Linked DNA regions of Homo sapiens. The protein of the gene in region 2 interacts with the protein of the main gene of each other region in a pairwise test. Each region holds a gene or a part of one and is shown on either strand. Other genes may lie near its edges.

Region 1 (3,655 bases), on a different chromosome or scaffold from region 2:
GCTTCACCTCCAACATTGGTGATTACAATTCAACATGAGATTTGATGGGGACATATACTCAAACCATATCATTCTGCTCCTGGCCCCCAAGTCTCAAGTCCTCACATTGCAAAATACAATCAGTATTTTTAGGGGACTGCTCAATAGTCCCCTAAAGTCTTACATCATTCTGGCATTAACTCAAAAGTCCCAAGTCCAAGTCCAAAGTCTCATCTGGAGATGAATTTCTTCCACCTATGAACCTGTAAATCACAATTTATTTACTTCCAAGATACAATGGAGGTGCAGGCATTGGGTAAACACTCCCATTGTAAAAGGGAGAAATCAGCCAAAAGAAAGGGGCTATAGGCTCCATTCAAGCTTGAAATGCAGCAAGGCAGTCATTAAATCTTAAAGCTCCAAAATAAGCTCCTATATGTCCCACATCTAGGGCACAATGATGCAAGGGGTGGGTTCCCAAGGCCTTGGGCAGTTCCACTTCTGTGGCTTTGCAGAGTTCAGCCCCATGCTGCTCTCCCAGGTTGTTGAATGCCTGTGGCTTTTCCAAGCACAGAGTCTAAGCTGCTGGTGGATCTGCCATTTTGGGGTCTGGATGGTGGCCCCCTTCCTACAGCTCCACTAGGCAGTGCCCCAGTGGGGACCCTGTGTGGGGCCTCCAACTCCACATTTCCCCTCTGGACTGCCCTAGTAGAGGTTCTCTAAAGGGGCTTCTGCCCCTTACAGCAGGCTTCTGCCTGGACACCCAGGCCTTCTCATACATCCTCTTAACTCTAGGCAGAGGCTTCCAAGCCTCCTTCACTCTTGCACTGTGCATATCCACAGGCTTAACACCACATGGAAGCCACCAAGGCTTACAGCTTCTACCCTCCACAGCAGCAGCCTGAGCTGTACCTGGGCCCATTGGAACCATGGCTGGAGCCTGAGCAACCAGGATTTAGGAGCAGCCTCCTGGAGTGGTGCAGGGCAGTGGGACCCAGGATCTGGCTCTGAAATCCTTAAGTCCTCCTGGGCCTCTCAGCCTATGATGGGAGGCATCGCCTCTTAGATTTCTGAAATGCCTTTGAGGCCTTTTTCCTATTTTCTTGACTATTAGCACTTGGCTCATTTTTAGTTATGCAACTCTCTATAGCAAGTGGTTGCTCCATGGCCTGCTTGAATTTCTCTGCTGAAAAAGCTTTTTTTTTCTTTCCTCTGCAAATTTTCCAAACTTTTATGCTCTGCTTCCCCTTTAAATATAACTTCCAACTTTAAATCATTTCTTTGCTTCTACATCTGAGGACAGATAGACTGTTAGAAAGAGCCAGGCTACATCTTCCTTTGCTGCTTAAAAATTTCTTCTGCCAGATACCCTAAATCAACACTCTGAAGTGCAAACTTCCACAGATCCCTAGGGCAGGGGCACAAGGCAACCAAGTTCTTTGCTAAGGCATAACACACATGACCTTTGCTTTAGTTCCCAATAAGTTCCTCATTGCCATCTGAGACTTTGTCAGCCTGGACTTCACTGTCCATATCACTATCAGCATTTTTGTCACAAACATTTAACCAGTCTCTAAGAAATTCTAAACTTTCCCTCATCTTCCCATCTTCTGAGCCCTCCAAACTCTTCCACCCTCTGCCTGTTACCCAGTTCCAAAGTTCCTTTCACATTTTTAAGTATCTTTATAGCCAAGCCAGCTCCTCAGTACCAATTTGCTGTATTAGGCCATTCTTGCATTGCTATAAAGAAATACTTGAGGCTGGGTAATTTATAAAGAAAATAGGTTTAACTGGCTCACAGTTCTTCAGGCTGTACAACCATGGTGATGGCATCTGCTCAGCTTCTGGGGAGGCCTCAGGGAGCTTTTACTCATGGTGGAAGGCAAAGGGGGATTAGGCACATCACATGGCAAAAGCAGGAGAAGAGGTGGAGAGGTACCACACACTTTTACACAACCAGATCTCATGAGAACTTATGCATTATCACAAGAACAGCACCAAGCTCTGAGGTATCAATCTGTAAGATCCAATCACCTCATTGTCAGGGTTACAATACAACTTGAGATTTGGTGGAGACACATATTCAAGCCATATCATACTGTACAGTGCAAGAGTCTCAAAGTGTAGTTGTTTTTTCATTTCAAATAAGCTCATTATATATACAACTGTATTATGCATTAGATGTGTTTGTGCATGTGACACATATGATAGACACATACAAACTCCACTAGGGAAACTTTCTACCTAGAAAAAATGAAAAAAGAACTTGTGAAAGGAATCTAACTTGGAAGTAGTCTCCAGAAATGGTCTTTCTTTGGGCCTGCCTATTCTAAGAATTGTATGAATATTGACTCATTTATTGTTCACAATAACTCTGAGGGGAATTATTATTATTCCTGCAATACAAAAAAATAGTGTGAAGTACAGAGAAGTTAAGTAATTTGGCACAAGGCCAAGTAATAAATCCTAGATTCAAACTCATTATACTATACAGTATGTGTTGCTTCTCAACAGACAGGGAAAGAATGCCTGAATCACACTTTCTGTTTAGCGGCCTGTAAATGGCCAAGAAACTAAACTCCACTGATGTCAGAAGGTTATCAGCATGATCTTGACTTCAGAGTGCTGTAGGGGTATAGAGAGTGACTGCCTCCCAGACCCAGTCCCTGAAAGGCTGCAGTAAATCTCAGCCTCACTAACAGCCCTATCTATGTAACCGATGGAGTAAAGTCTCTGGCTTTGGCTCATACCTATAATCCCAGCACTTTGGGAGGCCGAGGTAGGCAGATCACCTGAGGTCAGGAGTTCGAGACTAGCCCAACATGGTGAAACCCCATCTCTAATACAAATATAAAAATTAGCCAGTCATGGTGGCACACACCTGTAGTGCCAGATACTCAGGAGGCTGAGGCAGAAGAATTGCTTGAACCTGGGAGGTAGAGGTTGCAGTGAGCCAAGACTGTACCACTGCACTCTGGCCTGGGCGACAGAGCAAGACTCCATCATCTCAAAAAAAATAAAATCAATAAAGTCTCTGGCCTCCACTGAAGTGCAAGTGGCATCCTCAGCACAATTCAGGGAAACATCAGATAGAGGCCCAGAGCTATAGGCACTGACTAGGTAATCTGGATTTTGGTTATAGCTCCATTGGTAGCTATATAGAAACCAGGGAAAAATAAACAATCTGGTTTTATGTCTCCTCACCTGCAAAATGAAGATGCTGGACTTGATTGGTCCAAAGCTATCGGATACCTAGTAGTTTAACTTTAGATCCCAAACTTTGAGGCACATAGCCATCTGCTTAGACTAAGGGGAGAGAACTAGAATGAATCTACTCTTTTTCAAATCCTCGGAGACATGTAAGATCTCAAGGTCCGTGTTTCAGATGAAACCATTCAAGAAATAGGCCAAAAAAAAGCCTGTGTTCATTAATCATCTAATGATGAATTAGAGTGAGGGAGTGTTGAAGATATTAAGGACAGTCAACAGGCAAATGAAGAATAGTCCCCTTGGCAAAATTTGGCAGACTCATCTAAGAACGGAAGTTCCTTTAAAAGAGAAATAAATGTGTCTCTGGTTGGTATGATGAAACACACGTTCAGAAAAGAGGGAAGAATACTTAACTCATGTGGAATATGGATCTTATGGAGAGGTAGACAGTTGCCTTTCCATCTTC
Region 2 (3,655 bases):
ACAGGCATGAGCCACTGTGTCCGGCCTCTTTTTTTTTTTTTTTAAAGAGATGGAGGGAATCTCGCTATGTTGCCCAGAGTGGTCTTGAACTCCTGGTCTCAAAAGATCCAAAGTCTGTATTTTGATAAAGAAAGTAAGATTTATACACACTTGGAGCTGGGTGCAGTGGCTCACACCTGTAATCCCAGCACTTTGGGAGGCCGAGGTGGGCAGATCACTTGAGGTCGGGAGCTCAAGACCATCCTGGCCAACATGGCGAAACCCTATCTCTACCAAAAATACAAAAATTAGTCGGGCATGGTGGGGCATGCCTGTAATCCCAACTACTTGGGAGGCTGAGGCAGGAGAATTTCTTGAACCTGGGTGGCAGAGGTTGCAGTGAGTTGAGATCATGCCACTGTATTCCAGGCTGGGCGACAGAGTAAGATTCCATCTAGAAAAAAAAAAAAGATTTAAATACACTCAGGTTCAAGAACCACTATTCTAGAGGCTTTGCACATGCTGTTCCCCTGTCCAAAAGGCCCTTCCTTGCCCACCCTGAGGCAAAGTTGTTATGCATCCTTAAAGTCTTGTCTGCTGTAAAGCTTTGCATGGTACCACCAAAATGTAATGGCTCTCTCCTTTCTCTATAAATTTCCTTTCTTATGGTACTCATTCATTCCTCCATCCATTCATTCATGCATTCACCCATCTATCTATCAACATTTACTCAAAAACCACTCTGCCAGGCTGTATTTGGCTCATCCACTGACCATGCCTACTTTCTCCTTCAAGTGTAAACTGCCTTGTCCCTGGGGCAAATAAACAGCCCTGGGTGCTCTTAGCTCTGGGAAGCCACGGAATGGACCAGAAGTGATCACCTGACCCACTGGCCACCATCTCTTTGGCCACTTGCCTGGGGTGTGTGATCTGATTTGAAAAGTCAAAGTGAGCAAATCAGATTTGCTTTCCCAGTAATTTTAACTTAGGAATACAGGGAGAAGTTGACTGTTGGTAGTGGAACTTCAGGAGGAAGGATGAAGGTGGTCTCCAGTACCTAGCGAGGCATCTGGCATGCAGTAGGTGCCCAATAACTCACTGTGGAATGAATGGCCTCTCTGCTTAATAATAATAGCTAGCATTCATTGAGAAGCTACTCTGTGACATGTATTGTGTATTGTGCTAAGGACTTTATGGAGCCATAAGTTTCAATCTTCACAACAACCTTTTGAGATTGTATTATTATATCTGCATTTTACATATTAAGAATTTAAGGCTCAGAGAGGTAAACCACTTGCCCCAAATCACAGTGGTGGAGGTGGGATTTGAATGCAGGCTCCAGAGTCTATGTTTTACCTACTCTGATAAGTTGCCTTGCTTGATGTGATTTTGACAAGAATGGCAGACAACCAGGCATGGTAGCCCATGGCCATAATCCCAGCACTTTGGCAGGCCGACGTGGGAGGATCACTTGAGCCCAGGAGTTTGAGACCAGCCTGGGCAACATAACAAGACCCCGCCCCTTAAAAAAATTTTTAAATGGCCCCAAAAGTATTTTTCTCCCAATTGAATTATTTTCTAAAGGGGTGAATGACGGAACAGGCTACCTTCCAATATTATGACCCCCAGCAGAGCAGCCAGGGTGGTAAGCACCACGATGAGCAGGAAGAATCCAACAGGAACGGCCGACATGACAATGAACACCAGCAAGGTGAAGGCCAGAAACGGATGGCTGTCCAAGTACTGACCCACTGGAGACTTCATAAAGGCCACCACCTGTAGGCAAAGGACAAAGAGCCAGGGATAAGTAACACATCGGAACCCCAGGTTGAATGAATCTGCCCAAGCTGTGGGAATTACAAGGCAGAAGTCGTAAAGCCAGAAGGCTTATGCATTAACAAGTCACTACAGGCCGGGTGCAGTGGCTCATGTCTGTAATCCCAACACTTTGGGAGGCCAAGGCGAGCGGATCACCTGAGGTTGGGAGCTTGAGACCAGCCTGACCAACATGATGAAACCCCCGTCTCTACTAAAAATACAAAATTAGCCAGGCACGGTGGTGTGTGCCTGTAATCCTAGCTACTGGGGAGGCTGAGGCAGGAGAATTGCTTGAACCTGGGAGACAGAGGTTGCAGTGAGCCAAGGTTGCACCATTGCACTCCAGCCTGGGAGGCAGAGGTTGCAGTGAGCCAAGGTCACACCATTGCACGCCAGCCTGGGAGACAGAGCAAGACTCCATCTCAAAAATGATAATAAGAATAACAAGAGCGAAACTCCGTCTCAAAAAAAAAAAAAAAGTCACTACAACAAGACTTCTCCCAAGACATGAGTCACCCAGGCAGCTATCTTAGGCAGCTGTGGAGAGGTGGCAAGTCTGAGGTCCCCACCCAAGGTCAAGCCTTGTGAAAGGAGGAAAGACCCAGTCATGGCTCTCCTGCCAAACACACTCTTGAGAAGACCTCTTCGGCATAAAGGTGCATTGATGTAAGGTACATACCATCTGCCTCCTACTTTACAGCTGAGGTTCTCATAGTTGAAGCCACTCAGACACAAATAGGCTTAGCTACTTGGATCATCTAGGAGTTTGTTAGAAATACAGAATCTGGCTGGGCGTGGTGGCTCACATCTGTAATCCCAGCATTATGGGAAGTCGAGGCAGGAAGATTGCTTGAGGCCAGGAGTTTGAGACCAGCCTGGACAACACAGCAAGATTCCATCTCTACAAAAAATTTAAAAACTAGCTTGGCATAGCAGCACATACCCACAGTCCTAGCTACTTGGGAGGCTGAGGTGGGAGGATCACTGGAGCCCAGGAGTTTGAGGTTGCAGTGAACTATGGATTGCACCACTGCATTCCAGCCTGGGCAACAGAGGGAGATCTTGTCTCCAGAAAAAGGGGAAAAAAAAAGGAAATGCAGAATCTCAGGCCCTGATGAATCAGACTGCCTTTTAAACAAGATTCCCCAGGTGTCGTGCATACACATTAAAGTTTGAGAAGCAATGAACTAAGTCACTTGTCTAGAGTCGCACAGCCTCCAAGTTGCAAAATCTCAGCATTAAAAGCTAATCACTTGTCTATTATTAAGCATTAAAAGCATTATTATTATTAAAAGCATTATTAAAGTGATTAGCATTAAAAGCTAATCACTTGTCTATTATTATTAAAAGTATTATTACTATTAAAAGCATTATAATTATAATTATAATATAATAATTATATATGTTTATAATTATATATAATATAATATATTATATTATATATACTATAAATATAAATATTTAAATATATAAATATAAATAAATATAAATATATAAATATAAATATATAATATAAATTATAATTATAAATATAAAATATAAAAATATTTATAATTATATAAAATTAAATTATATTTAATTTTATATAAAAATATAATTATATTTATAAAAATATAAATATAAAAATATTTATAATTATAATATATAAAATAAAAATATAATATAATATTAAAAATATATATATAATTATATATAAAAATATAATTGTAATGTAATATAAAAATCATAATTATAATATTGTATAATTATATTAGATATATTATACTAATATTAGTTATCAATATTCATATAGCATTATTATATATTATATAAATATATTATATTTATATATGTATATAATTATAATATGTATTATATT

What was found.
Region 1: the proteins of LDAF1 (region 2) and ZNF391 interact in a two-hybrid assay, tested with the Homo sapiens proteins (one large-scale study listed by BioGRID).

What each region holds. Positions count from the first base shown.
Region 1 is NC_000006.12:27,391,604-27,395,258, reverse strand, and holds part of ZNF391 (zinc finger protein 391), read right to left. Parts: intron 243-3,655; exon of another isoform or gene 164-242; intron 1-163.
Region 2 is NC_000016.10:21,168,537-21,172,191, reverse strand, and holds part of LDAF1 (lipid droplet assembly factor 1), read right to left. Parts: intron 1,756-3,655; coding exon 1,587-1,755; intron 1-1,586. UniProt on the Homo sapiens protein: Plays an important role in the formation of lipid droplets (LD) which are storage organelles at the center of lipid and energy homeostasis. In association with BSCL2/seipin, defines the sites of LD formation in the endoplasmic reticulum.